2 separate regions of the Homo sapiens genome follow, and region 1 is linked to region 2. Evidence: fine-mapped expression QTL. A gene starts in region 2. The other region holds a variant in brackets. All regions are shown on one strand. Distances are from middle to middle. Region 1 overlaps POLR1B (RNA polymerase I subunit B). Region 2 holds the start of POLR1B (RNA polymerase I subunit B).

The links.
Region 1: its variant is fine-mapped to the expression of POLR1B in whole blood (TOPMed, PIP 0.93).

What each region holds. Positions count from the first base shown.
Region 1 is chr2:112,562,900-112,576,689 of GRCh38, reverse strand. POLR1B (RNA polymerase I subunit B) reads right to left here. Exons shown (of 15, transcript NM_019014.6): 10 at 12,191-12,324; 11 at 8,553-8,723; 12 at 7,788-7,944; 13 at 3,932-4,128; 14 at 2,875-3,128; 15 at 1-1,843. The coding sequence ends at 961. Among named protein-coding and RNA genes, the nearest start is that of CHCHD5, 15 kb to the left of the region's middle. The variant G/A (reference allele first, on the strand shown) is at 4,640.
Region 2 is chr2:112,534,378-112,551,488 of GRCh38, reverse strand. It overlaps POLR1B (RNA polymerase I subunit B), which reads right to left and starts at 9,024. Exons shown (of 15, transcript NM_019014.6): 1 at 8,818-9,024; 2 at 4,310-4,477; 3 at 3,922-4,068; 4 at 2,090-2,222; 5 at 487-623. The coding sequence starts at 8,994. It overlaps TTL (tubulin tyrosine ligase), which reads right to left. Exons shown (of 7, transcript NM_153712.5): 7 at 9,750-17,111. It overlaps LOC105373562 (a long non-coding RNA gene), which reads left to right and starts at 9,277. Exons shown (of 2, transcript NR_136321.1): 1 at 9,277-9,286; 2 at 9,411-9,833. RefSeq lists an enhancer at 8,992-9,141.

The DNA.
Region 1 (13,790 bases), 27 kb before region 2:
ATAGATGCACAGCACCATGCCTGGCTTCCAAAATGGATGAATCTTATTTCACTATGCTAAGTGAAATAAGCCAGTCACAGGACAAATATTGCATGATCCCACTATATGAGATATCTGTAATAGTCAAACTCATAGAAACAGGGTAGAAGGGTGGTTGCTAGGGGCCAGGGAAATGGAGAGTTGTTCAACAGGTATAAAGCTTCAGTTATGCAAGACAAGTAAGGTCTAAAGATCTGTTGTACAACATGGTGCCTGGAATTAACAATACTATATCGTGCACTTAAAGATTTGTTAAGAGGGTAGGTCTTGAGTTAAGTGTTCTTACCACAGAAGACAAAACAAAAACTCAACAGCAACCAAAAAGCAAAAAACAAAGGGGCAGGAGGAAACTTGTGGAGATGACAGGTATGTTTATTACCCTGATTGTGGTGATGGTATCAAAGGTGTGTGCATATAGTCAGACCCATCAAATTGTATTCATTAAATATGTAACAACTGTACTTCTATAAAGCTGGTAAAAAACACTGTACCTGTTTGTTTTTACTTCAACGTGGCTATAAGAAAATATAAAATTACATTACAGCTTGCATTCTATTTGTATAGTACTGTCCTGCTCAAGATGGATTAACAGGTGTGTGACACTCACTGCCTGCTGAGAGCAGGGTGTAGGGAACCTGGGGTTGGAAAGGAGACTTGTCACCGTATGCTCTTCCATTTATCAATATTTCATATTTTGAGAAGACATGAACTTTTTGAACAAAGATAACAGAAAATCATTGTCAATAGTTAATCTACCAGAGAGATTCAGAAACCTTGCATACTTGGTTTTCAGGTCTTGGTTGAGAGTTCTAACACCGTTGAAAAATCTCAAGAGTAACCTGGTAATGATATCTTCATTGAATTAAAATTACATTTTGCTTTAATCTGATAGTCCTCTTAATCCAAAAGGTCAACATCAAGTTAAACAACATCCAGTTTCACTTTGATGTTCATAGCTGCCAGTTCAGCTACAAAATACCGAAAAACATAAGGCACAGAAACAGTATCGATAGTGTCACTGCGACTACACAGAGTACAGTTGTATTTTCTGTTGCGCATGGCAGACCAAGAAGGGGGTGGCTTCTCCAACAGTGGAGAGAGTAAACTGCCACACTTCACACACACATGGGCTACCGACCGATCTGAGCAGTTGAAGAGGCGGTCATGAAGGAGAAAAGATGTACCATGAGCTAAAAGCGCATCCCGTTCCATCTCCCCAAAACGGATTCCACCCTGGACATTTCTTCCCCCAATAGGCTGGTTGGTGACTCTGTCTCGGGCTCCAGTTGTCCTTACTTGAAATTTGTCTGAGACCATATGGCGTAAGCGCTGATAATAAACCACTCCTATGAAGATGTCTGCTTCCAGTTCTAGCCCACTGATGCCACTATATAACCTCTCGGTGCCATAGAAATTGTAGCCAGCAGCCTTTAACATCTCACCAAAGTATTCTAAGGCCGAGTTCTCCTCTGAGAAGATGAAGGGTGTAGCATCATGGCAGAGACCATGCAAAGCTGCAGACTTCCCGGCCATACTCTCAATTAACATCCCAATGGTCATGCGGGATGGAAAACCATGGGGATTGAACAGAATGTCTGGGACCATCCCACTCTCAGTAAAAGGCATGTCCTCAGCCGGCCACAATCTGCTTAAAATGCCCTTCTGCCCATGGCGACTGGCAAATTTATCTCCGATAGTTGGGTTCCGAGGCACTCTCATAGTGATGCAAACACACTTGAATTTTCCACTCCCAGTGTCATTACTGCACACTTTGATGTTATCCACAACACAATTTTCTTTACTCCTAGGAAAAAGTAAACCATATAAGGTCAACCTATTTGTTTTAACTTATGGAGATAAGTTTCATTGATATAATTAGTGCTTCATAAAGGATATTTGTAAAACTTTTTTTTTTTTTTTTTTTTTTATGATACAGGGTCTCACTCTGTTGCCCAGGCTGGAGTGCGGTGGTGCAATTACAGCTCACTGCAGCCTTGACTTTCCGGGTTCAAGCAATCCTCCCACCTCAGCCTCCTGAGTAGCTGGGACTACAGGTATATGCCACTAGGCCTGGCTAGTCTTTAAATTTTTTTTGTAGAGATAGGGCCCCACTACATTGCCCAGACTGATCATGAACTCCTGTGCTTAAGGAATCCTCCTGTTTTGGTCTCCCAAAGTGTTGGGATTGCAGGTGTGAACTACTGTGCCTGGCCTGCAAAACTCATTCTTACCTTTATTCTCCAATACAAACAGAGATGGTATGAATAGAGCTATTGGTGATATTCACTACAGAATTATGTTCATCTGAAAGAAAACTAGCAACAAAAGCAACTGAAAAATTATTATGAAAGCCTATTGAAATAAATTATATTGTAAAATAAGCTAAAATAAGACATTTCTAATAAGAGGTATGAGCTCAACATTTTGGCTAGGAAACATTGCTAACATTGTATGTGAGAAAGATGACAAAGTTTGGATAATACAGTTTTTAAAAAAAGCACAAATAGGCCAGGGATGGTGGCTCAGGCCTGTAATCCTAGCACTTTGGGAGGCTGAAGCAGGTGGATCACTTGAGCCCAGGAGTTCGAGACCTACCTGGGCAACATGGTGAAACCGTCTATACTAAAAATACAAAAAATTAGCTGGGCATGGTGGTCCATGCCTGGAGTCCCAGCTACTCAAAGGCTGAGGCGAGAGGATTGCTTGAGCCCGGGAGGTGGTGGTTGTAGTGAGCTGAGATCACTCCACTGCACTCCAGCCCGGCTGACACACTGAGACCCTGTCTCAAAACAAAAACAAAAACAAAAACAAAACAGCTTGGATACCCAAACTTACTTATAGTACATCACAAAACTTTCCCCGGTGTTGAGGTTGAGGTAGCTGTAATACGGATCTCCGTACTGCAGTTTTGCTCCTATAAACGGCAATCCATCGTCATCTAACTTCTGCAGAACGCGTGGGTCACCAGGTTTGATGCCAAACACCAGGCTACTATCTCCTTGTTTAATTTTTTCAGAGAGGTCTATGAACTCAGACTTGTAGACACTTCCATGGGCAAAGCCTCGTTCCCAAGAGGCCTTATTCACAATCTGTGAAGTAAAAGAATCGTTAAAAGACTGAGGCCAATTGAGGATTTTCAAAATAAAACTAGGTGGGACTATCATACTTGGTTTAGGATAACTGGCATCACATTTTAACTTTCCTCACATTTTCCAAATCACTGATACTAACTACAAAAACCCAGACATGGCTGGGCACGGTGGCTCACGCCTGTAATTCCAGCACTTTGGGAGGCCAAGGCAGGTGGATCACTTGAGGTCAGGAGTTCGAGACCAGCCTGGCCAACATGGTGAAACCCCATCTCTACTAAAAACACGAAAATTAGCCAGGCATGGTGATGGGTGCCTGTAGTCCCAGCTATTCGAGAGGCTGAGGCAGGAGAACTGCTTGAACCCAGAAGGTGGAGGTTGCAGTGAGCCAAGATCGTGCCACTGCACTCCAGCCTGGGCAACAGAGCGAGACTCCGTCTCAAAAATAAAAAACAAAAAACAAACAAACAAAAAACAAGAAAAACAAAAACCCAGGCACACAGAAATAGCTTAAAATCTAATCATACTTAAATATAAAAGGTAGATAGATCCAAAACCAAACTTCAAAATTTACTCATAATATGCACTCAAATATGCAAGACATACGTGTATCTGAATATTTAGTGGATATTCCTCAAGGCTTGCCCACTTTCAACTTAGACTAAGAACTAATCATTTAATAGAACATCACGTGCCAAATACTAGGTACTTGGGTACACAAAAATATTCCTTCAGTGATTTCACAGTAAACAAACAAGTTAAAAAATAAAAAGATTGGAACAACATTTCCTGGTAAAACTTACCATGGCATCTTCCATATCATAGCCAGTGTAAGAAATCACAGCAACGATGGCATTGGTCCCAATTGGATAGTTATCCATGTCATAATAATCATACATGGAGGGTCTCACCAAGGGACTCTGAGGAGTCTGAAGACGATACAGTTTGTTATCCGATCGGTCTTGATAAGTGAGAAGTGGAAAGCCCATAGTTTGCTTACCTACATGGAGAAAAAACATCTTAGCATTTTCTGCTGCTTTCATCTTGATTATAGGTGTGATACGCAACACTGGAAACAACTAAATATCCATCAGAGGAAAATGAACAAATAAATAGTCATGGTAGTTATGCTTACTTTAGACTAATACATAAGCTGTGAAAATGAAGTAAACCTAAATGTATCAACGTGACCAGACCAGGAAAACCATGCTGAGTGGGAGAAAGTGCAGACTGACATTTAATATGATACGATTTATGTGTATTTGCAACACACCCCAAACAATTCTATACTTAGTTTATGGATACATGTATGATGTAATAAAAGCTTTAGAAGGGGACAGAAAGGAAGTACGCAAATTACAGGCTATCACTACTCGGGGAAGAAAAGGGGATAGGAATTATTACGTAATTAGATTACTTTCTTACAGCGGAATATGTATTTAATTCTAAGTAGTGGAGCATGGGGTGAGATTCCTCTGTGTACTACCTCACAGTACAGAGAATCATTTCAC[G/A]ACAAAATGATTTTAAAATATAAATACATACAAGTGAAATTTTTAAAAAAATTATAGACTTAGAGCTTCCAGTAATAAAGGGCTACTCTTACTAGACCACCCTCAACACATAAGTATGAGACGCAGACCCCCAACTACACATACAGCACTGGAGAGTAACCAAAAGCTGTCAGAAGCTGAGAAGAATTTTTACTTGGACAAAAGGAACACACTGGGTGAATTTCCAGGTTTTTAAGTATTTATGTATTTATTTTTGCCTTATGGCCCAGTGTGGCAGCTACAACTTAGATAGAAACCCACAATCTTACTGGCTTGAAGAACCAAGAAATAGAGTTCTGAGCATGACAACAATTGGGAAGGGGGAACATTTCAGAAATGAGAGAACCACAAAGGGAGACCCTTAAATTCAGCATATAAATTGGGTCCGAATCTTTGGTGGACTCCTGAACTATGCATGCATGGGACAGATCACAGCAGCCCACCTAAGGCTGAAGAATGTACTTCAACTGCCACGTTCACCAAGTTAAGTACCAGTGAAAACTAAAAACCAATCCTCTTCCCCTGGAGAATTTTTGGTGACATGCACTGAACCAGGTGATGGACTGTGTATTAAGAAGGAAAGACATAAAATGAAAAAAATTAAAATGTAATTGAAGGCCAAACACCACACTAAAAACAAACAAAACCAATCCTCTTCAGAGGACCCTAACAGGATCCAGGGTTTAAAACATACTCCTCGCAATGTTCATAATACAATCCGATATTACTGGGCATACAAAGAAATGGTGAAACTTGACTTATACTCAAAGAGACTGATACTAAGATGACCCAGACATTGGAATCTGCAGATAATGATTTTACAACACCCATCATATAAAACTATGTTCAAAATATAAAGGAAAACATGCCCACAATGAATGAAGATAAGAAATCTTAGAGAAGAAAGAAACTATAAAAAAAGAAACAAGTCAGGCCAGGCGCAATGGCTCATGCCTGTAATCCCAGCACTTTGGGAGGCTGAGGCAGGCAGATCATTTGAGGTCAGGAGTTTGAGACCAGCCTGGCCAACATGATAAAACCCTGCCTCTACTAAAAATACAAAAAATTAGCTGGGCATGGTGGCACATGCCTGTAATCTCAGCTACTCAGGAGGTAGAGGCAGGAAAATTGCTTGAACTGGGGAGGCAGAGGTTGCAGTGAGCCAAGATCGTGCCACTGCACTCCAGCCTGGGTGACAGAGCGATACCCTGTCTCAAAAAAAAAAAAAAGAAAAAAAAAAGAAACAAGTAGAAGTGCTGGACTTGAAAAATACAGGCATGCACTGCATAACAATGTTTTAGTCAATGCAGGATGGCATATATACTATGGTGATCCCATATTTTTACTGTACCTTTTCTATGTTTAGCTACACAAATCCTTGCCATTGTCTTACAACTGTAGACAGTACACAGTACAGTTACATGCCACCCAGGTTTGTAGCCTAGGAGCAACAGGCTATACCATATACTAGGTGTGTAGTAGTCTCTGCCATCTAGGTTTGTGTAAGTTCACTCTATGATGTTCACACTACGACAAAATCACATATGACTCACTTCTTCGAAGGTATCCCTGTCGTTAAGGGCACATGACTGTAAGCAAAAATTCAGTAGAAGACAGAATAAAAAGTGACTGTGATAATAGGTCAATAAAAATAATCCAATCTGGGCCAGGTGCAGTGGCTCACACCTGTAACCCCAGCATTTTGGGAGGCTGAGGCAGGCAGATCACTTCAGGTCAGGAGTTTGAGACCAGCCAGGCCAACATGGTGAAACCGTATCTCTACTAAAACACAAAAATTAGCTGGGCATGGTGGTGTGTGCCTGTAATCCCAGCTCCTCAGGAGGCTGAGGCAGGAGAATTTATTGAACATGGGAGGCAGAGGTTGCAGTGAGCCGAGATTGTACCACTGCACTCCAGTCTGGGCAACAAAGTGAGACTCCATCTCGGGAAAAAAAAAAAAAGATCCAATCTGAAGAAAATAAAGAAAAAAGAGAACAGAAACTCAATGTCTTATGGAACAATATCAAAAGGTTTAAATATATGAATAACTGATAGAAGAGGAGGAAAGAGAGAAAAGGATAGGAGCAATGTTTTTAAAAATAATGACAGAAGAGTTTAGCAATTTAATTAAACTGAAAAAAAACAAAATTTGAGGCCGGGCGCAGTGGCTCACGCCTGTAATACAGCACTTTGGGAGGCCAAAGTGGGCAGGTCACCTGAGGTCAGGAGTTCGAGACCAGCCTTGCCAACATGGTGAAACCCCGTCTCTACTAAAAATACAAAAATTAGCTGGGTGTGGTGGTGAGTCCCTGTAGACCCAGCTACTTGGAAGGCTGAAGCAGGAGAATCACTTGAACCCAGGAGACAGAGGTTGCAGTAAGCCGAGATCACACCACTGCACTCCAGCCTAGGCGACAGAGCGAGACTCTGTCTCAAAAAAAAAAAAAAAGAAACACACTATATTCAGAAGACTGCTGCCTTCTAACTAGAAATGACAGAGACTAAGAAGAGACAGTGTAACAACAACTTTTAAGTGTTGGAAGAAAAATAACTGTCAACTCAGAATTGTATATCCAGTGAAAGATTCCTTCAAGTGAAGCAAAATAAAGACATTTTCAGATAAATGAAAACAAAGAGAATTTGTGGCCAGCAACCTGCACTATAAAAAAATGCTAAAGGAAGATTATCAGGCTGAAGGAAAATTGTATACAATGAAAACTTGAATCTTGCAGCAGGAATGAAGAGGACTGGAAGTGATAAATATGCGGGTGACTATAATTGCTTGTATTCTTCAAAAAATCAAATAATAAGACCTCAGGCACACCCAAATCTATGGACATTCTATACCTTTTTCTTCAAAAATGTCAATGTCAAAGACAAAGAATGTTTAAAGATCTGTCATAAATTACAGGAAACTAAATAGACATGCCAACTAAATACAATGAGTGATCCTGGGCTGGTTGCTTGTGGCACAGAAAAAAGAAAAACTTGCCATAAACTGTATTTTTGGAACAAATGGTCAGCATATGTAAATAAGGACAATAAAAGAGTGTGCTAGTATCAAGTTTACTTTCCTGATTGTGACTGTAACATCATCCCTCTTCCTTACCCATCTGGCATTGGTACATGTTCCGTGGACTCTGGTTGTGATCAGAGAAAGGGATGAAGTTGGCAATCACACTCAGCAGGCTGTGTGGAAAGAGTTCCTGGTGTGTGGTAACTCCAGCAAAAACTTCATCCTCAAAGATAGCGACATTCATGAAGATCTGGAAGAGCAGATGTCCAAGGCACAAAATAACTGCAACTGGTTACACATTTACTCTTACCATTTCTCAGAGTTCAGTACTCAAAGACTCAAGAGAAAACCATCCCCACCCAGCATCATGAGTGCTGAAGGGATCAACTGGGAAGCACAGGGAAGCGACCAGTTAGAAATACCACTTGCTTTACGTATCTCACTCTAAAACTACCCCAGACCAATTGTGAAGGGGAATAGGAAGAAAAATTTTTAAGTAGCACAAAGCCTATAATTTTGCAACTGTAAATATGTAGGCAAAGACTGAGTGTGAATCTAATGGAATGTTTTCACTTCACGGCTGAGGCAGAGCCAGGTACAAAGGAGTTCTGGGAGCTAGATAAGATGGGAGGCAGGTAATGTGACCACCAGCCCTCTCTCAGGTTCTGTGGAGTGAGATCAGACATGGAAATTGCTCTGTGCTGATCATAGAGGAGGTGGAAAGTCTGACTTTCTTTCAAATGTCCAACTGTTGTTGTAACATTAACAACCCTTTTAAAAAAGGAAGAGTTAAGTCTCTGAAAGTTGTATACTATACAAACAAGCACATACACTCATCCATCACACATATGTATTTACCTGTTCCATAGTTCCAATTAGCTCTTCTTTGCCCAATGCTAAGTTCTGCACAGGCCGTACCAGTCTACAAGGAGTGGTAAAAAGGAACAATCCTGGGTACAGACTTGGTTTTCCTGTCATGGGTATAAGGACCACTTCCATCCAGGGAGGAATTCTTTTCTCTCTCAACACCTGTTTTTAACAAAAACAGAGTTTAACAAACCTGTCCCAAGGCCATGGCTGTCGCTGCCAGTCTTATGCCCCATGGAATACCACTCATCCACACTCAGCCATGGTAAAAGCCCTACTTCCTTGGGTGCTCACCCCAGCTAGTAGGCAAATCACTAACTACTGAGGCTAAGGATAAAGCACACCATGAATGCACGTGTCGATACACTAAAGGAAATTCTGTCCTCTGTGATCTAAAATACAGTAGATTACTGGTTTTATTTGTAAATTTAATAAACCAAAAACTCATGGGTGGGCCGGGGGTGGCTTATACCTGTAATCCCAGCACTTTAGGAGGCCAAAGTGGGTGGATCACTTGAGCCCAGAGGTTCAAGACCAGCCTGGGCAACATGATGAAACCCCGTCTCTACAAAAATTAAAAAATTACCTGAGTGTGGTGGTACGTGCCTGTAGTCCCAGCTAATCGGGAGGCTGAGGTGGGAGGATCACTTGAGCCCAGGAGGTTGAGGCTGCAGTGAGCCATGATCATGCCACTGCACTCCAGCCTGGGTGACAGAGTGACCCTGTCTCAAAAACAAAACAAAAAAACTCCAACAAACTCCTGGGTGAAAGGAGAAATAAAAACCTAAATTACAGAAACCTGAAAACAACAACAACAACAACAACAACAACAAACCCATGTGTCAGAACTCATGGGGATTCACAGCTAGATGCATTATCATTAAAAATGAGAGAATGTTTGGTGGAGGGGGACACGGGGAGATGTTGGTCAAAGAGTATAAAGCTTCAGTTATGCAACAAAATTAAGTTTCTGGAGATCTCATGTACAGCATGTGACTATAGTTAAGAATACTATATTGCATGCTTGAAATTTACTAAGAGAGCAGATCTTAAGTGTCCTCATCCTCCGATGCTCCACAATGCTAACCAAAAAAAAGAGAATGAAAATAAATTCTCTATAAAAAAGATAAAATCTGAGACTAATGAGGCAGGTAGCTCATTTGAGGTCAGGAGTTCGAGACCAGCCGGGGCAACATGGAGAAACCCCATCTCTACTAAAAATATAAAAATTACCCAGGCATGGTGGTGTGCACCTGTAATCCCAGCTACTTGGGAGACCGAGGCAGGAGAATTGCTTGAACATGGGAGGCGGAGGCTGCAGTGAGCCAAGATCACACCACTGCACTGCAGCCTGGGCGACAGAGCGAGACTCTGCCTCAAAAAAAAAAAAAAAGAGGAATGATTGTTTAATGGTTACAGAGTTTCAATTTGTGATGATGAGAAAGTTCTGAAGATGGTGATGACTCCACAACATGAATGTACTTAAAACCCTCAACTGTACACTAGATCAAATCTCATACACTTTCTGAGCATCAAAATAAGTAGTAACAGAATATTCACAAAATTAAACAAGCATCTATAAATCTACGCTAACATAAATAAATGAACAACTAATAGAAAAGAAAGCCCTCCCTTACAGAATAGCAACTAATAAACATAGAAAAAATGCTGGTGGGGGAAAACACCATGTGGTAACCATCACAGTAATATTAACTCAGCAAAGAACCACCAATGGAATAGTAATTCAGCTAATAATCCATCAACTAGTGGGTGAAAATATGAAGAAAGAGGGCTCCACATAGCTTTCAACTATCTCTCCACAAGTTACTTATTACAGAGAAAAACAGAAACTGTACAGTGAATTAACCTAAAGAACACAACTTTGAAGGGATCAGTTAACATGAGTCGTAACAGGACAAACCAACGTCATGTGCTTCCTGAAATATCTTGAATCTCATCATGAGGAAGCAAAACATAAACCTAAATTACAGGAGAGCTGTGATTCCCAGCACTTCGGGAGGCCAAGGCGGGTGGATCAGTTAAGGTCAGGAGACCAGACTGACCCAAATGGTGAAACCCCACCTCTACTAAAAATAAAAAAAATTAGCCGGGCGTGGTGGTACACACCTGTAGTCTCAGCTACTCAGGAGGCTGAGGCACAAGACTCTGACTCAAAAAAATAAAAATAAAAGACTGGTGGTTGGCAGCATCTAGGTGGCTTCAGGATGGGGCTGGTCACCAGAAAGACCAAGCCAGGATTAGAGGATTGGGACTTTCACCCCCACCCTCAACCTCCAGGAAGGGGATAGGGGCTGGAGGTTAAGCTAATCCCCAGTGGCCAATGATTCCATCAGTCATCCTATGTAATAAAGCCTCCATAACAACCCAAAGGACTGGGTCAGGGTAGCCGGGCACAGTGGTACAGTCCTGTGGTCAGGCTGCTTGGCAAGCTGAGGTGGGAGGATCACTTAAGCCTGGGACACTAAGGCTGCAGTGAGCTGTGATTGTGCCACTGCACCCCAGCCTGGGCAACAGAGTGAGACCCGTCTCTCTAAAAAAAAAAAGAAAAGAAAAGAAAAAAAAGAGAGCATTACTGAGACAGCTGGTGGAATCTGAGTATCAACTATGGATCCCACCCACATGACCTTCTCTGATTTTCATAAATGTACTGTGGTTATTGAAGAGAAAGTCCTTGTTCTTAGAAAAAGTACACTAAAATCTTTATGGAAAATGAGACAATGTCTCAATACTGCTCTCAAATGGTTCAAAAGAAAAAAATTGAGTATACAGAAGATAAAGGATGTAGGGCAAAGCATAGCAACTGGTGGATTTGGGTAATGTGTATACAGGGGGGTCCCATGTACTGATTAAACATCTTTGCTCTAAGTGTAAAATTATATCAAATGAGCCACAATTCCACTTATAGGAATATAAGAATTAAAGAATTAAAAGCACAAGGACTTAAATAGATATTTGTACACTCATGTTCATAGCAGCATTATTTGCAATGACCAAAAGGTAGAAACAACCCAAGTGTCCGAAACAGCACTTAAACGAAAACTAAAATTTAGTTTAAACATTTTTTAAAAATAAAAACACAGAACAGAATATAAACCACAAACAGCCTGTTGCCAAAGGATAATTCTTTCAATGGCCATTATCAAAGCAACAAATACTCTTCACTAGGAGGAAATCCCAAAGGTAAGTTATTCAAAGAATGTCATTCTACTTTTTAAAAATATATTTTCAAAACCTAGGAGGCAATGGGGTATAACTTCTACCTTGCATATTTTGAATATTACTGAAATATCTGTATTTTGAGATCCCTTCTATGCCACTAGTATTAAGAAGGGGGAAAAAAGTTAAAATTAGTTAGATAAGCAGACTGAGGTGCCTCAATGAAACTGCCAAAGAATGTATATGGGTCAAATATCTGTCACTGACCCCAACCAATGAGGCCAGTATAAGGCAAGCCTCTGTCACCAGAGGGAATGCACAGGCATTCTGGACATTGTGACCCCCTGACCACTTGATCACTCTAGACCGCCCAGGGGTTAACCCCAAAACTAGAAAGGAACTGAAAAACCTAAGGTCAAGGGATAGGACAATTCACAAAGCCTCAAGCCCACCTTAAAATGACGAAGAGAATCTGCGATGCCTGGAGCAAGATCCTTATCCACCCAGCCAACCATGACACCGTCCAGCAGGACAGGGTAGCACTCACTGTATGATCGGTGGGGAGCTCCATCAATGGGAGTGACCCCTGGTAAAGGAAACAAACAGCACAATCACATCAGAATGCTTCATCCAACATTCCAGATTCCCTCCAGATGGGGTCAACAGCTGCTGTATCAGTTCAGATATCAAATTATCCTTGTCTCTAAAACAGGTACAGGCATTATTTCTTTTAACTGCACTTCAGATATTTCAAGCAGGCTTATCAATGCCATTTTTCCAACGACAAGTGTTCCCTTTGTGTCTCTGTGCTGGCATTTTGGTAATTCTTGCAATATTTCAAATATTATTATTATTATATCTGTTATGGTGATCTGTGATTAGTGATCTCTGATGTTACTACTGGACTTGTAGATGTGGTAGAAATAGCAAGACCACTAGAATTAGAAGTAGAGCCTGAAGCTATGAGTGAATTGCTGCAATCCCATAATCAGACTGAATGGATGAGGAATTGCTTCTTAGAGGATGAGCAAAAAAAATGGGTTTGTTTTATTTTTGAGACAGGGTCTTGCTCTGTCGCTCAGGCTGCAGTGCAGTGGCATGATCATGGCTCACTGCAACCTCAACCTCCCAGATTCAAGCAGTCCTCCCACCTCAGCCTCCCGAGTAGCTGACAGGTGCGTGCCATCATGCTTGGCTAATTTTTAAATTTTTTTTTTGTAGAGACAGGGTCTCCCTGTGTTGCCTAGGCTGGTCTCGAACTCCTGGGCTCAAGCAATCCTCTCGCCTTGGCCTCCCAAAGTGCTGGAATTACAGGCCTAAGCCACTGTGCCCAGCAGAAATGGTTTCTTGAGATGGGATCTCAAGAAATGAGAAGATGCTGTAAACATTGTTGAAATGACAATAAAGGATTTAGATTATTTCATAAACTTAGTTGATAAAACAGCGGCAGGGTTTGAGGGGACTGACTGCAACTTGGAAATAATCTCCTCTGTGGGTAAAATGCTATCAAACAGCATCACATGCTACAGAGAAATCTTTTGTGAAAGGAAGATGCAATTGGTGTCGCAAACTTGTTTTATTTTAAGAAATTGTCACAGGCCAGGCGTGGTGGCTCACGCCTGTAATCCCAGCACTTTGGGAGGCAGAGGCGGGCAGATCACGAGGTCAGGAGATCGAGACCATCCTGGCTAACACGGTGAAACCCCGTCTCTATAAAAAATACAAAAAAATTAGCCGGGCGTGGTGGCGGGCGCCTGTAGTCCCAGCTACTCGGGAGGCTGAGGCAGGAGAATGGCGTGAACCCGGGAGGCAGAGCTTACAGTGAGCCGAGATCACGCCACTGCACTCCAGCCTGGGTGACAGAGCAAGACTCCATTTCAAAAAAAAAAAGAAAAAAAAAAAAGAAAGAAATTGTCACAAGCTGGCCGGGTGCAGTCACTCACACCTGTAATCCCAGCACTTTGGGAGGCCGAGGCAGGCAGATCACCTGAGGTCGAGAGTTCGACACCAACCTGACCAACATGGAAAAACCCCGTCGCTACTAAAAATACA
Region 2 (17,111 bases):
GGAGACTCCCAGGGCTAGATCACAAAGGGCACTGCAGCTTTTTCCTTCTGCATCTTCTGCTCTCTGTTCTCTCAGCTAACTATATGGAGGAAGACAGTTGCCTCAAGCAGCCTACAGAAAGGGCCATGTAGAGAGCAACCCCATGAGGAGACCTCCTGCCACCAACCAGCAGATTTGCCAGCCATGTGAGTGAGCCACCTTGGAAGTCCTGAAAATGACTGCAGTCCTGTCTGACATCTCCATGCAACCTCCTGAGACCCTGGGCCACAAGTGCCCAGCCAAAGCACTCCCAAACTCCCGACCCGCAGAAACTGTGAGACAGAAATGTTATTGAGTTTTAAGCTATTGAATTTTGACGTAATTTGTTTTGGAGCAGTAGACAACTAGTACAGTATTATTTTAACAAGGAGAATCCATCCAATGTGCACAGGATACTACCCCCAGTGAATTTCTTCATAACAAAAGAATGCATTCATTAAGTCATACCTTAAGTGCAAATCCCAAAGGAAGAAAGAACAGTTCTTTTCGGTAAATAAAGTTCAACATAACAGTGCCATTTTCCAAGTAGTGGAGGTTCATATTGACAGCGGAATGTTCTTCCCTCACACAGTGCATTGAAACTCCTATTGAACCAAACAACAAAAAAATCAGAAACTCATTGATATCTTAATTGCTTCAACCATTTTCTTTCTGAACAATCTTAACCTCTTAGACACAATTAAAGCCAAATCACTAAGTTTAGCCAAGACTGGCAATCAAAAATGTTTCTAAACCTCAGCAAATGTCCTCTTGCATGCAAAATCTACCCAGATTGAGAAACACTAATGTAAAATAACCGAAACTATGAATTTAAGCAAACTTCAAAGTTTCCCTCCAGGACAGAGTCCACATCTTTTAGCACTTTATATCTGCCTTAAACTGTGGAGTCTGGTCAAGACATGGTGCTTGATCTAATAGTTCCAATGGAGAAAAGTAGAATTTTAGATTTTATTTCAGTTTCAGGCAAAGACTGCTAAGACATACTACCATCAACTGATGCAAAAGAAAATCACTAGACATTCAGGCATGCTGTTTTTCTAGGTATAGTATGTATGGCTATAATTAAGGTCTGATTTTTAGCTCAACTATCAGGACAAATTGTTTAACTGTCAGGGTTGCTCAAGAATACAACATGCTGTCTTAGGCATTGTCAAAGAGAATGTTCCAACAGAGGCCAGGTGGCTGTCAGACAGAGACCCTGAGGGGTGTACCACAGTGGCCTGAACCAGAAGACATCCAAGGCCCACATTCACCTATGGCCAAGCCAGACTAGCTTCCATCTTCATAAGTAGTAACAAAAATACACATGCTCTTTCAGTTTGCAAAAGTGCAGCAGCCTGAACCAGAAGACAGCCAAGACCCACACCCACTTATGGCCAAGCCAGACTAGCTTTCATCTTCATAAGTAGTAACAAAAATACACATGCTCTTTCAGTTAGCAAAAGTGAATTTTAAAATGCTTATGATTGATAAAAATCATATATATTCAAGGTGTACAATACCTTGAATATACATATACATATATTATAATGATTTCCACAATCAAACTGATGAAAACATCAATCACCATAGTTATCATTTGTAGTACGTGTGCACGCGTGTGTGGTTGAGACACTTAAAATGTACTCATCAATTTTAAGCAGTACAGTATTACTATCATCACCAGGCTGTACATCAGATCCCCAGAACTTATTCATCTTGTAACTGCAAGTCTGTATCCTCTGACTAACATCTCTCCATTTCTTCTTCCATCCCAATTATGAAAACTTAACACAAGAATGCTCAATAGAAAAACAACAAAAAACAAAAGAAAGACCAGACACGGTGGCTCATGCATGTAATCTCAGCACTTTGGGAGGCTGAGGCAGAAGGACTGCTTGAGCCCAAGAGTTCGAGATCAGCCTGGGCAACGTGGTGAAACCCCATCCCTACCAAAAAAAAAAAAAAAAAGAAACAAAAATATCAAAGACCATTTGGATGCATCTACTTCAAAAAAAAAAAAAGTTTTAAATTTTCCTTAAAAAATATTCTAATAATCTCCAGAACTTACCATACTGAGTATAACCAGGCCCTCTGGTTTTCCATTTTGGTCTTATCATTGCAATGGGAAAATTTCTCCGAGGCATAATCAACATTCGGATGACTTTTTCAATGCCATTGATTATAAAATAGCCCCCCATTTCCTGCCAAAAAGATGAATTGCAACTTGTTAAACAAAGATACATGACTAACTGTAAACATGAACCTCACTCCTAGCCAAAGGTAGTACAACACACAGAATAGGAACACAGAGGTGAAATGTACTACTGATCCCTTGAAAACAGTACACAGACACTGTCTTTGTGTGAATTAACAGTTTTCTCAAGTATATTACAAAGGTCCTAGGGACATGGGAAAAAAGTATGGAAGAAAAACAGGGTACTTCTCTTTATCAGACAGGCTCAACCTATCTTGCCTTTCTGTCCCCTAAAATGACTTCAGTCTTCAAATAACACTAAAAAAAACTTACTCCAAAGAGGTGTTGAAAGATAAAAACTGGGCCGGGCGCGGTGGCTCACGCCTGTAATCACAGCACTTTGGGAGGCCGAGACAGGAGCATCACAAGGTCAGGAGATCAAGACCATCCTGGCTAACACGGTGAAACCCCGTCTCTACTAAAAATACAAAAAATTAGCCAGGCGTGGTAGTGGGCGCCTGTAGTCCCAGCTACTCGGGAGGCTGAGGCAGGAGAATGGCTTGAACCCAGGAGGCGGAGCTTGCAGTGAGCCAAGATTGCGCCACTGCGCTCCAACCTGGGTGAGAGAGGGAGACTCCGTCTCAAAAAAAAAAAAAAAGAAAGATAAAAACTGTAACCATTTTGCTTCCATACGAGTATGGTTTCCCAAATACGTTCAAAAACTTGATTGTATGAAAGCTCTGGAAACCAGAAATTTGGATTAGCTAAATAGAAAAATATTTTTAATAGCTCTGCTCAATATCACATTTCTGTAATAAACAGCTACTATTTACGAATTGCCTACTATGAAACAGGCATATTATAGTAGGTGCTCTATGTTATCATAACATTTAATTCTCATAACAATGAGTGGGGTAGCTATTATACCCACTTGCAGCAGAGGAAACTGAGGCTCAGGGAGATTAACTTCCCCAAACCACAAGACTGATAAGCGGAAGAGCTGTGTGTCAAACCCAGATCTGACACCAAAACCCTCTTCCCACCACATAACACCATCTACCTATTTAGTAGGCACTGTTTGTTCATCTTGATTACCTCAACTCAACTCTGCAAAGCCACCTAATATAGCTGAAAGAAATGATGAAGGGAATGCATATAAGTCATTTAATATGCGCACAGAATCTTACTGTTAGCAAAGCAGACATTTTTATTTCACTTTTTTAGTGACGGGGTCTCACTCTGTCTCCCGGGCTGGAGTGCAGTGGCACAATCATGGCTCACTGTAGTGAGGCCTCCTGGGCTCAACTGATGCTCCCGCCTCAGCCTCCCAGTTAGCTGGGACTACAGATCCATGCCACCACCATGCCCAGATAAATAGACATTTTTGACAATAGCTTTGTGGATTAAGACAGCTTGAAAAAAAAAACAAATTTTGTGGAAGTATGTCTCTATCATTCAGAAAATTAGGGAAAAACCTACCAGTTCTTCCCCCCGAACAATAATATTCTCTAATTTTACAGCCACTTTTTCATACTGTCTAATTTGATAGTTATTCAGAGCCATACACTGTATGCAGGCAAGATACTGATATCTCTTTCACCTATCCAGAAATTGGAGCACAGAAAGAAAACACTGACACACTTCTTGTCTTCTTACTCCCAACCCAGGCCTTCTCTACTGTCTCATGCCTGGACGCCCGTCATTACCTCTGCCTCCTCATGGTGCTCAATGAGGGCTTGTGGGGGAAGGTTACGTAAGTTGCAAAGCTTGGATTTCACCATGATGGGAACATAGCCAAGAAACTGCTTAATGATTCCTTTTGAGATTCCATTCACTGCCCAGTTGATATCAGCCTAAATGAAAACAAGAGAAAAAGTTACTTAACAGAAATATCTGCATTTACGAGAACAAATGAGTATTTTCAAAGACTGAGGAAGAAGATCAATTAAATTATTTTATGCCTTAGATTTAGAAGGTGGGATCTCTTAGACAATAGCACCAAGAAAGCAATTTCTGGCATAAACTTTATTAGGCACCCGCCCTACTCCCAAATATGTGCAGTGTTGAGAGTCACACAGTATCACTAGTACTCACTGTCAACTTCCCACGGTAGGTACTCCTTCGGCCCCGGCATTCTGCTGGATAAACATTGGCCTCTTTGCAGATGGTCCCTTTTGGAACTGTAGGTGGACTGATAACAGCATCCAGAATAGTAAAAGAGATACGCTCATCTTTGAAAGCAAATTCAAAGGGAGGTATAGCCTGAAATGCAATTCACACTATTAAATTGCTTGCATTTCCAAGGCATTTTTTCTCTAAGACTCTTCCAAATCTTATGTGTTCTACAAACATTGATGCCTGTGATGCCACCATGACACACCTAAAAAGGACAGTTAAGGCTACCTCCAGTTGGCCGGGCGCAGTGGTTCACGCCTGTAATCTCAGCACTTTGGGAGGCCGAGGTGGGAGGATCACAAGGTCAGGAGATCGAGACCATCCTGGCTAACACGGTGAAACCCCATCTCTACTAAAAATACAAAAAAAATTAGCCAGGCGTGGTGGTGGGCGCCTGTAGTCCCAGCTACTCGGGAGGCTGAGGCAGGAGAATGGCGTGAACCCGGGAGGCAGAGCCTGCAGTGAGCAGAGATCACGCCACTGCACTCCAGCCTGGGCGACAGAGCGAGACTCCGTCTCAAAAAAAAAAAAAAAAAAAAAAAAAAAAAAAAAAAGCTACCTCCAGTCTACTCATAACTTCACTAAATACTTAAAACCACAAAGCATTATTAGTACAAGATTGTTTTGAGTGACCACATGTGTCAGAGACTGTAGTAGGCTCTAGGGATACAGCTGTGAACAGAACAAAATTCCTGTTCTCTGAACCAAGAGCCTTGTGTATTCTTAACTTGTCTATGTGCATAGCAAGACAAATGGGACTACTGCTAATAGAGCAAGGATACGGAAACATCCTTTAGGATTTAAGACTAGATGCTTAATGTACAATGGCAACGTCAAACTGAAGCCAGAGCCATGCAAAGGAAAAGATGGTGGCCAGGCTGGGTTTCCCCTTCCACAGAAGTTACTTCTTTGTACCATTCTGTAGGGGAAGCTTTGCTGTTCTGAGGAAGGGGCATCACCAAGCTCTCCTATATATTAATTACAAGCAACCTCCTAGACTTAGTCTTAGAATAATGAAAATGAAAAAATGGAACCAAGAAAGAATACCAAGGAGGTTCTCCACCTTCACGTGAGTTAACTTACCTTTTCTAAATTTTAAAATGTTATCTAAAGCTGGTATTATTTTAGAAATTCATATTTTATTTAAAAATAAAAGCCAGATGCAGTGGCTTATACCTGTAATCCCAATATTTGGGAGACCGAGAGAGGAGGACTACTTGAGCTCAGGAGTTTGAGACCAGGCTGGGCCACATAGGGAGACCCCGTCTCTACAAAAAATAAAAATAAAAAAATTAGCCGGGCATAGTGGTGCACGCCTGTGGTCCCAGCTACTCAAGAGGTTGACGTGGGAGGATCACTTGATCCTGGAAGGTCGAGGCTGCAGTGAGCTATAACCATGCCACTGCATTCCAGCCTAGGTGACAAAGTGAGATCCTGTCTCAAAAAAAAAAACAGAATGAAGTTAAAAAAAGAGAGATTAGACAATTTGCTTTCTCAAGACGCAGCTGCACTATTTAGAAGGAAATACAGTGAACTGTCATTATTCATAATAGTTATGTTCTATACAGTTGCCATAAACACTGAATTAGCCAATACTGAACCACTGCTCCTAGGGTAAATACATGGTTAGCTTCCTGCGAGCCTCTGGTCACATTTCATCAACTGATCAACACACAATCTTGTATTATGTGTGTTTCTGTTTAAGGACAGCTTATTTAATACATATTATTGAGTCCGTAACTCATGCCTGAACAAAGCCTATGATTTCATCCACTGATCAATACACAACCTTGCATTATGTGGGTTTCTGTTTAAGGACAGCTTATCTAATATATATTATTGAGTCCCTAACGCATGCCTGAACAAAGCCTATGTTAAATGCATGTATTAATATTTTCCCCTAAAGGCACAGCACAGCCTTCTTGTGCTTAGGAACTTTATACAGAACTTTAATACTTTAATACTTTGCTTGGGGGACATTTTAAACAGCAAAATCACCAACAAAAAGCACAAAACACGGCACTAAATAGATAGTGAAGACAACCTCTGTTTATAGTTTAAGAACTTAAAACAAGAAGGCCGAGCATCACCTTGTTAGATCTCAGCTGGGAAAATGGACACTGAGCAACTCAACTTTTTTGCTGCTTCTGGGCATGGTGCTTTTGGAGTAGAAGTAAATTTTAGTGAGTAGGTGAATTTGCAAATATGGAATCCCCAAGTAATAAAAATCAATTGTATTTTGAAAAGACAGACACATAAATTCTGACTCACAGAAAGGAGGAATTCACTCCAAAGAAACTTGGCAAAATTATGTTTTGTAAGTAAAAAATATGATAACTATTTTTTCCCTTGGCTTTATAAGTATTAGTTATTTATGTTACTGTGTTTTACAGAACTTTTTCAAATACTATATTATTATAGTCCTAGCTAAGTTGTGGCATCATTTTCTATGCAGGGCCAAATTTTCTTCATCTACTTCAACCAAAACAATTATCACAAGGGACTGAATGCACAAGCAGACATGAGAATCCAGCTGTCTTTTCATTAAGCCAGACATTAAAAAGATTTTTAATAATGCAATTCATCTAACTTCTTTTTTGCTTTGGAAAATATTTTTCTTAAAAATGTTAACATATAATTGGTTTATTTATTTATGTATTTATTTTTTTGGGAGAGTCTCACTCTGTCACCCAGGCTGGAATGCAGTGGTGCAATCTTGGCTCACTGCAACCTCCGCCTCCCAGGTTCAAGCGATTCTCGTGCCTCAGCCTCCTGAGTAGCTGGGATTACAGACATGTGCCACCATGCCCGGCTAATTTTTGTATTTTTTAGTAGAGATGGGGTTTCACCAGGTTGGCCAGGCTGGTCTGGAACTCCTGACCTCAAGTGATCCACCCGCCTTGACCTCCCAAAGTGCAGGGATTACAGTCAAGAGCCACCACACCCAGCCGACTGGCTTATTTTTAAATTAGTGCTTTTCTAAAATTTCTCAATTGGATTTTTTTTTTTTAAAGACAGGTCTCACTCTGTTACCGAGGATGGAGTGCAGCGGCACAATCATAGCTCATTGCAGCCTCAAATTCCTGGGTTCAACTTATCCTCCCACCTCAGCCTCCCGAGTAGCTGGGACCAGCTACTTGGGTGCGCACCACCATGCCCCACTAATTTTTAAATTTTTGTGGAGATGGGGTTTCACTATGTTATCCAAGCTGGTCTTGAAATCCTGGGCTCAAGTCATCCTTCTGCCTTGGCCTCCCAAAGTCCTGGATTACAGGTGTGAGCCACTGCACCCAGCCCGATTAACTTTTAATTAGGAATTTTTTCTCACAGACATGATACTGTAACAATCCAGGCACAATACAAATAACCCCCACCCCTCTAGTCTTTCTAAACAATAAATCTTAATGGCTCCCATATTATTTGCCGAATAGAGTTCAAGAATCAGACTGGCAATCAAAGCTCTCCACATTATCTGTATCCCTATCTCCCACAACACAAATCTTACCCAACAAAACCACAGGTAGGGTCCCCGAAGCATGTGACTCTGCTCTACTCTTCCCCTGGACGAAATGCACGTTTCTCACTTCTTGAACTCATCTAATCCTGCCCTTTCTCAAACTCCTGGATTAGTTGCGCCGCCCATAGGCTCCCGCAGTAGCCCACACAATCCCTTGGCAGAGCAGTTCTCAAGAACATTGGCATGCACTGCTTTCATTATCTTCACCCCTTCAACCCCCAAACACGACAGGGAGCACTTAAATGCATGAACTGTCTCGTACACGGGACTGCCTCCTCCACATCCTCTGAGCCTAGTGCCTGGAGACACTGGGGATGCTTACTAAACGAAGCTTTCCCCCACCATACTCACTTGAATTCTGCTACCATTACTCTACGCTAATAATGCAATTACACTTTTCGATTCAATCTTGCTTTCATGACTCATTTATACCTTCCTCGGCACCTGCTTAATTCATAACAAATGACGAGTAGTTTCTCTCTTTAAAGCTCTAAGAGAAGGAAACTGAAGGATAACCTTGAACATTACACTGTACCTACAAATACGTTCGGGATCTTTCGAGGTACGTTTTGGAGAGGTAAGTCTTCAAGTGATATAAAGCCGTGTGCATTGTGAAGCACATCCCCAGATAAGCCACTTCCTCACTCTCACAGCACCCCGAAACTGTCCAAACTACGGTTCACAATCACTTTTCACTCCAGAATCACGAATACATCTCTTAAGACGCCTCGACTCCAAGTCTCACGAAGGCCAGTACCGCGTCCTGTTTAACATGTTGTGCTCTCCCGCTTACCCACCAAGCCTGTCAGGATCAAGGAGCACATGCATCTGGGGTCATACTGTGACCTCCCAGCCACCTCCCTGGGATTGGCCTCGCCGCGGCAAGGGCGCCGGCGGACGCCGCGCTCACCTGCACCGCGAGGCCGAGACCCTCGTGCACAGCGTAGTTGAAGGACTCCACGTGCGCCCGCGTCAGCTCCTGCAACGCTGCCTTTTGCTGTTCCCGCGGGATTCCATAAGAGGGGTCAGTCAAGTGCTTTAGGCTAGGCCCGCTGGGCAGGTTCCGCCACCGGCTGCCAGGATCCATGTGGCCACCTGCACACCGGACGCCAGTCTCTCGGTACACGCCGGACGCCAGTCTCTCGGTACACGCCGGAAGTAGTGGCCGCAGTCCCGTTTCCGCAGCCTGCTGGGAAATGTAGTTCCCTCTCGTTCCACCCGCCCTAGGCCCTGCGGTTTCGGTTTCTCGGGGTCAACGTAGAACCAAAAACGTCGAGTGAACGGGCCGATTAAGGCCGTGTCCAGCCAGAGCGTGGCGGGCCCTCCCTTTCTCCCATATTCCGCCCCACTCATCTCCCCGCTCGCGAAAGATGCCGCAGGTGGAAACCCGCTCCCCGCCCAGTTGAGCATGTGACCTCTTTGGCTCTCATTGGCTCAGTCAATTAGGATCGGAGGAGAGCGGTCTTCTCAGGCTCTCTTCTGTTTCCCTTCACCTGTTCCCAGTCCCACGCTGATGCCGACCCTGGGGAGTCATCCGGCCAAAGTCGTTGCTTCAACGAAAAAGCGGATGCCGGGCCCCGGGCTGACTCTCTACCCAACTCCTAACTCGCGAGGCTCACCCCTGGGAAGCCAAGGAGTGGTCGGGCCCCGCTAACCTCGTCGCATCTTCCGGACTGGAGGCCTGGGGGAGGCCTGGGGAAGGAGGTGGGAGAGGAGTCGGGCGGTCCCGGATGGAGGGGATGGGGCAGCGGGGCGTCCAACTGGATTTACAGCCTGAATTTCTTTTGCGTTCCTGTGAGCCCCTTACCTCCCCAGAATACTGATTAATCAGGGAATGCCTGCTGGTTTTTCAACTTTATTGTGTTTGTGTTTAACAGCTATATTGCGTTATAACTGGCATACAATAAACCACACATTTAAAGTGTACGCGTTAAGTTTTGACCTATGTATACAACCATGCAGCCATCACCACAATTAAAACAATGAATTAAACCACCACTACCCAGTATCCTCCTGCCCCTGATAGTCCCTCCTTACTGTCAACTTCCCCTTTCCTAGTTCAGCTGGTACTTTTCATTCCTATATCACTTTTTATAAAAAATTCGAGCCGGGAGTCTGTTGCACAGGCTGGTCTTGAACTTCCGGCCTCTAGTGATCCTCTCGCCTTGCCTCCCTAAATGCTGGGATTACAGGCATGAGCCACCGCGCGCGCCCGGCCAACTGAGTAGTTGTAGTTCTTTATATAGCCTATACTAGTCCTTGTCAGATCCATGATTTGCAAATATTTTTCTCCCATTCTGTGGGTTTTTACTTTCTTGCTGGTGTCCTTTGAAGCAAAACGTTTTAATTTTGAAGTGTAGTTTTTTTCTTTTGTTGCCTGTCTTTTTATATCATATCTAAGACATCATTGTGTAATCCAAGGTCATGAGGATTTAAAAAAAAATTTATGGGTACATAATTAGCATATTTATGAGGTATATGAGATGTTTTCATATAGGCATACGATGTAATCATCACAGGAGGGTAGATGGGGTTTCCATCACCTCAAGCATTCATCATTTCTGTCATGAACATTCCAATTGTACTTCCTCAGTTATTTTTGAAGGTACAACAAATTATTGCTGACTGCAGTCACCCTGTTGTGCTATCAAATACTAGATATTTTTCAATCATGGGGATTTTCACCTATATTTTCTACTAAGAGTTTTGTAGTTTCAACTCTTACATTTAAGTCTTTGACTCATTCTGAGCTAATTTTTGTATATGGTGTGAGAAAGGCATATCACTTTATTCCTTTGCATGTGGATATCCAGTTGTCCTAACACCATTTGTTAAAAAGACTATTCTTTCCCTCATCAAATTGTCTTGGCCTCCTTGTCGAAAATCAGTTCACTATAGATGCAAGGGTTTATTTTTGACTCTCAGTTCTATTCTCTTGATCTGTATGTCTATCTACATTTATCTGTATATCTGTCTACAAACTACACAGATTTGATTAATACAGCTTTGTAATAAATTTTGAAATCAGGAAGTGCACATCCTCCAACTTTGTTCTTCTTTCTCCAGATTTATTTGATCCTTTGTATTTCAATATGGATTTTAGCGTCAGCTTAGCTTGTCAATTTCTTTCTCTTTTTTTTTTTTTTTTGTTTTTTGTTTTTTTGAGACAGAGTTTTGCTCTTGTTGCTGAGGATGGAGTGCAGTGGCATGATCTTGGCTCACTGCAACCTCTACCTCCTGCCTCAGCCTCCCAAATAGCTGAGATTACAGGCATGCACCACCATGCCTGGCTAATTTTGTATTTTTAATAGAGACAGGGTTTTACCATGTTGGCCAAGCTGGTCTTGAATTCCTGACCTCAAGTAATCCATCTGCCTTGGCCGCCCAAAGTGCTGGGATTACAGGTGTGAGCCACCACACCCGGCCCAGCTTGTCAATTTCTGCAAAGAAGGCTGAGATTCTTGATCAGGATTGTGTTCAATTGGTAGATCAATTTGGGGCCTATTTTCATCCTAACAATAATTATCTCCCAATCCATAAACATGGGATGTCTTTCCATTTATTTAGGTGTTCTTTAATTTCTTTCAGAGATGTTTTGTAGTATTTGGTGTAGAAATGAACTTTTGTTAAATTTATTCCTAAGTATTTCATTCTTTTTGGTGTTGATATAAATGGAATTGTTTTCTTAACTTCAAATTGTTTGTAATATGTAGAAATACCATTGAGTTTTGTATATTGATCTTGTGTCTGGCAATCTTGCTAAACTCTTTATTAGTTCTAACAGCGTAAGTGGATTTCTTAGGACTTTTTCTATATGGTATCTTGTCGTCTGCAAAGAGAGATCATCATACTTCTCCCTTTCCAATCTGAATGCGCAGTCTTCTTTCCTTCCTTTTGTCGAATTGCTCTGTCTAGAACATTTAATACAATGTTGAAGTGACAAGAATAAATATACTTGTTTTGTGCCTGATATTGGGAAGAAAGCTCCCAACTGGAGCTTTCACATCACCATTAATATGATGTAGGCTGTGGGTTTTTCCAAAGATGCTCTTTATCATGTTGAGGAAGTAATTTATTTCTAGTTTGTTGAAAGGTTTTTTCCAAGAAAGAGTGTTGTGTATTGCCAAATGCTTTTTCAGTGTATATTGAAATGATCATGTGCTTTTTGTCCTCTTTTTTCTATTAAAGTGGTATATTATATTAAGTAAATTTTGTATGTTAAAAAAACCTTGCATTCTTTCTTTTCCCCTTCTCAACGTTTATTTTAGAATCAGGGGGGTACATGTGCGAATTTGTTACAAAGGTATATTGGGTGATGCTGAGGTCTGGGGTATGGTTGAACCTGTCACCCAGGTAGCGAGCACAGTATCCAATAGGTAGTTTTCAATCTTTGCTCCCCTCCTTCTCTCCTGGCTCTAGTAGTCCCCAGTGTCTGCTGTTCCCATCTTTTTTTTTTTTTTTTTTTTTTTTAGACAGAGTCTCTGTCACCCAGGCTGGAGTGCAGTGGCGCAATCTCGGCTCACTGCAACCTCCGCCTTCCAGGTTCAAGTGATTCCCCTGCTTCAGCCTCCTGAGTAGCTGGGATTACAGGCGCCTGCTACCACGCCCGGCTAATTTTTTGTATTTTTAGTGGAGACGGGGTTTCACCATATTAGCCAGGATGGTCTTGATCTCCGGACCTCATGATCCGCCCGCCTTGGCCTCCCAAAGTGCTGGGATGACAGGCGTGAGCCACCGCGACTGGCCTCTTCCCAACTTTATGTCCATGTGTACCCAATGTTTAGCTCCCACTTTTTAATTTTTTTGAGACAGGACTTGCTCTGTCACCTAGGACAGAGAGCAGTTGTGCGATCTCTGCTCACTGCAACCTCCTCTTCTCAGGTTCAAGCGATTCTTGTGCCTCAGCCATCAGAGTAGCTGGGATTACAGGCATGCACCACCATGCCTGGCTAATTCTTGTATTTTTTATAGAGACCAGATTTAATCATGTTGCCCAGGCTGGACTCAAACTCCTGGCCTCATTTGATCTGCCCACCTTGGCCTCCTAAAAGTGCTGAGATTATAGGAGTGAGCCACCGTGCTCAGCCTAGCTTCCACTTACAAGAGAACATGAGTTATTCCAAACTTTGTAATCTTAGGATAAGTCCCACTTAGTCATAATGTATAATCCTTTTTCTATGTTGCTGGATTTGGTTTACTAGTATTTTGTTGAAGATTTTTTCCGTTTGTATTCCCAAGAGATTATTGGTCTGCTATTTGCTTTTCTTGTGACATCTTTGTCTGGTTTTGGTATCAGGGTATTAAGAGTGACCTCATAAAGTTGAGGACACTCTTCTCAATTGAGGAGTATTTTCTTCTCTTCTATTTTTTAGGAGACTCTATGAAATATTGGTGTTAATTCCTTACCATCTGGCTTACAATCTGGTCCTGGGCTTTTCCCTGTGGGAAGTTTTAAAAGAATTATTATTAGTCCAACCTCTTTACTTGTATATTTCTTCATTAATACAGAAATTAACAAAATTTGTTACTGATTTCTGATTTTATTCCAACATGGTCAGAGAACATATGTAGTATAATTTCAATTCTTTTAAATTTACTGAGACTTGTTTTATGGCCTAGCATGTGATCTACCCCAGAGAATGTTCCATGTGCACTTGAGAAGGATGTGTATTTTGCTGCTGTTGGGTGGAGTGCCTTGTAGATATTTGTCAAGTCTAGTTGGTTTATAGTGTTTTCTATTTTCTTGTTGATCTTCTGCCTAGTTGCTCTAGCTATTATTGAAATGGAGTTTTGAGGGTTCCAACTATTGTAGTTAAATTGTCTGTTTCTTCCTTCAATTCTCTAAGTTTTTATGTCATGTATCTTTAGGCTGTATTGCTAGGTACATATGTTTATAATTGTCATATTTTCCTAATGGACTGACCCTTTTATCAATATAAAATGTCCTTGGCATACAAGTGGCCAAGAAACATATGAGACAATGTTCATCATCACTAATCAACAGAGAAATGGAAATCACAACCACAATAAGATATCATCTCACGCCAGTCAGAATAGCTATATTAAAAAGTCAAAAAATAACAGATGCTGAAGAGGCTAAGGAAAAAAAGAGAATGCTTATACACTGCTGGCAGGAATGTAAATTGGTTGAACCACTGTGGAAAGAAGTTTGGAGATTTCTCAAAGAATTTAAAACAGAGCAGCTGGGCATGGTGGCTCATGCCTGTAATCCCAGCACTTTGGGAGGCTGAGGCAGGTCGATCACCTGAGGTCAGGAGTTCAAGACCAGCCTAGCCAACATGGTGAAACCCTGTCTCTGCTAAAAATACAGAAATTAGCTGGGCATGGCGGCACACGCCTGTAGTCCCAGCTACTTGGGAGGCTGAGGCAGGAGAATCGCTTAAACCCAGGAGGCGGAGGTTGCAGTGAGCACAGATCACACCACTGCACTCCAGCCTGGGTGACAGAGAGAGACTCCACCAAACAAACAAACAAACAAACAAAAACAGAGCTACCATTCAACATAGCCTCCCATTACTGGGTATATATCCAAAAGAAAACAATTCATTCTACCAGAAAGACACATGCACCTATATGTTTATCACAGTGCTATTCACAAGAGCAAAGACATGGAATCAACCTAGGTGCCCATCAACAGTGGATTGGATAAAGAAAATATAGTACATATATACCATGGAATACTATGCAGCCATAAAAAAGAATGAAATCATGTCCTTTGCAGTAACATGGATGCTGCTGGAGGCCATTATCCTAAGTGAAATAACACAGGAACAGAAAACCAAATATTGCACAGTCTCATAAGTGGGAGCCAAACATTAGATACACATGGACACAAAAATGGCAACAAGAGACACTAAAGATGACAAGAGGGAGAAGGGAGGGAGGGGTGCAAGGATTGGAAAGCTAACCATTAGGTACTATGCTTACTACTTGGGTAATGGGATCTGTACCCCAACCTCAGGACCCATGTAACAAACCTGTGTATGTACCTCCAGAATTTAAAATAAAAGTTGGAACTATTAAAAAAAAGTCCTTCTTTGTCTATAGAAACAATTTTTTTCTTAAAGTTTATGTTGTCTAACATTAGTATAGCTACTCCACTTCTCTTTGAGTTACTGTTTGCATGGTATATCTTTTTCCATCATTTTACTTTCAACCTGTTTGTGTTTTTGAATCTAAAGTGTGTTTTGCCAGGTGCATTGGCTGATGCCTGTAATCCCAGCTGCTTAGGGGAGACTGAGGCAGGAGGATTGCCTGAGGACGGGAGTTCAAGACCAGCTTGGGAAACACAGTACGACCCTATCTCTAAAAAAAAAAAAATTTTTTTTGGAGAGATATCTGCACTCCCATGTTTACTGCAGCCTTGTTTGCAATAGCCAAGATTTGGAAGCGACCTAAGTGTCCATCAGCAGATGAATGGATAAAGAAAATATATTGCTTATACACAATGGAGTACTGTTCAGCCATAAAGAGTGAGATCCTGTCACTTCCAACAACATGGATGGAACTGAAGATCGTTATGTGAAGTGAAATTAGCCAGGTAAGTTTTGAAGTAAGCCAGGTCCTATCTCTAAAAAAATTGTTTTAAATTAGCCAAGTATGGTGGCAGGCACCTATAGTTCCAGCTACTTGGGTGGCTAAGGTGGGAAGATTACTTGAAACCAGAAGTTTGAGGCTGCAGTGAGCTATCATTACACCACTAGACTCCAACCTAGGCAACAGAGCAAGACTCTGTCTCTAAATAATAAAAATAAAAATAAAATGAAGTGTGTTTTTTGTAGATAGCATATAGTTGGATCATGATTTTTAAAAAAAATCAATTTGCCAATCTCTACCTTCTGATTGGAGTATTTAATTCATTTGCATTTAATGAAATTACTGATAAGGCAGGATTTATCTACCATTTTACTGTTGGTTTCTTTAGGCCTCTTGCCTTTTTTTTCTCCTCTATTTTTCATTACTTCCTTCTCTTTTCTTATATATTTTCTAGTGTAACATTTCTGTTTCCTTGTCATTTTTTACTATATATTTAAAATTATTTACTTAGTGGCTGGTGTGTCTTGAGGTGGACTCTTTGAGTCTTTCCTGCTTAGAATTTGTTGAGCTTCTTGGATTCACTTTAATGTTTTTCCTCAAAGTGGGAAAGGTTTTGGCCACTATTTCTTCCAGTATATGTTTTATCCCCTTCCCTCTCTCTCACTTATCTATTCTAGGACTCCTATTATGTGTATGTTGGTATGTTTGATGGTGTCTGACGGGTGTCTGAAGCACTGATCATTTTTCTTTGCTGATTTTTTTTTTCTGTTCCACAGACTGGATAATCTCAAATGACTTCTAATTTGCTGATTACTTCTTTTACCAGTTCACACATTTTTTAAACTTCTCAAGTAAATCTTTCATTTGCATTTTTGTACTTTGCAACTCTAAAATTTCTACTTGGTTCTATTTTATAAACTAACTTTCTTTCCTTTTTTCTTTTCTTTCTTCTTTCTCTTTTTTCTTTCTCAATCTTTCTCTTTTCTTCCCTCCCTCCTTTCCCTCCCTCCCTCCCTTTCTCCTTCTTTCTGCCTGCCTTTCTTTCCTTTCTCTTTCTTCCTCTCTCTTTCTCCCCTTCCTACCTTTCCTCCCTCCCTCTTTCCCTCCTTCTGCCTCTGTCCTCTCTGTTTGTGCAGACACTTAAGGTCAGACGAAAGAGCTGGGGAATTCTCAGGTCTCTTCTGGGCATGTGCACAGTCCTACACATGTGTGTGGCCTTCTGCATTCTTAGGAATAGGTTGAAGCTTTTCAAAACGTCCTATAGAAATCTCATTCCCAGTTTTTCCTTCTAAGTCTTTTGGTCAGTTTGTTTGTTCCAACTGTTACAGCCACCTTAGGAAGCTGAGATGTTCAACAATTGCTGTTGATTTTTTTTGACAAATGCACCCAGGGAAAAGGTTGTTCACACTGGGTAACCTCTTAGTCACATCAAATAAAGACAAGACCTAGGAGTAGGGACTTACATGGAACTACCAAAAAGGCCAAATGGCAATTCTCTGGTAATGAAGCTTTGGAGGAGTTCCAATCCCCTTCTGAGCCCTACGGTGGCTGCTCTGCTGCTGGATGTCAGCATGATTGTGTGGCCGAGGCTGTTGTGGAGCTGGGGAAAGGGGGAGTGGGAATAGGGTACATTAAAATGTCAGAAAG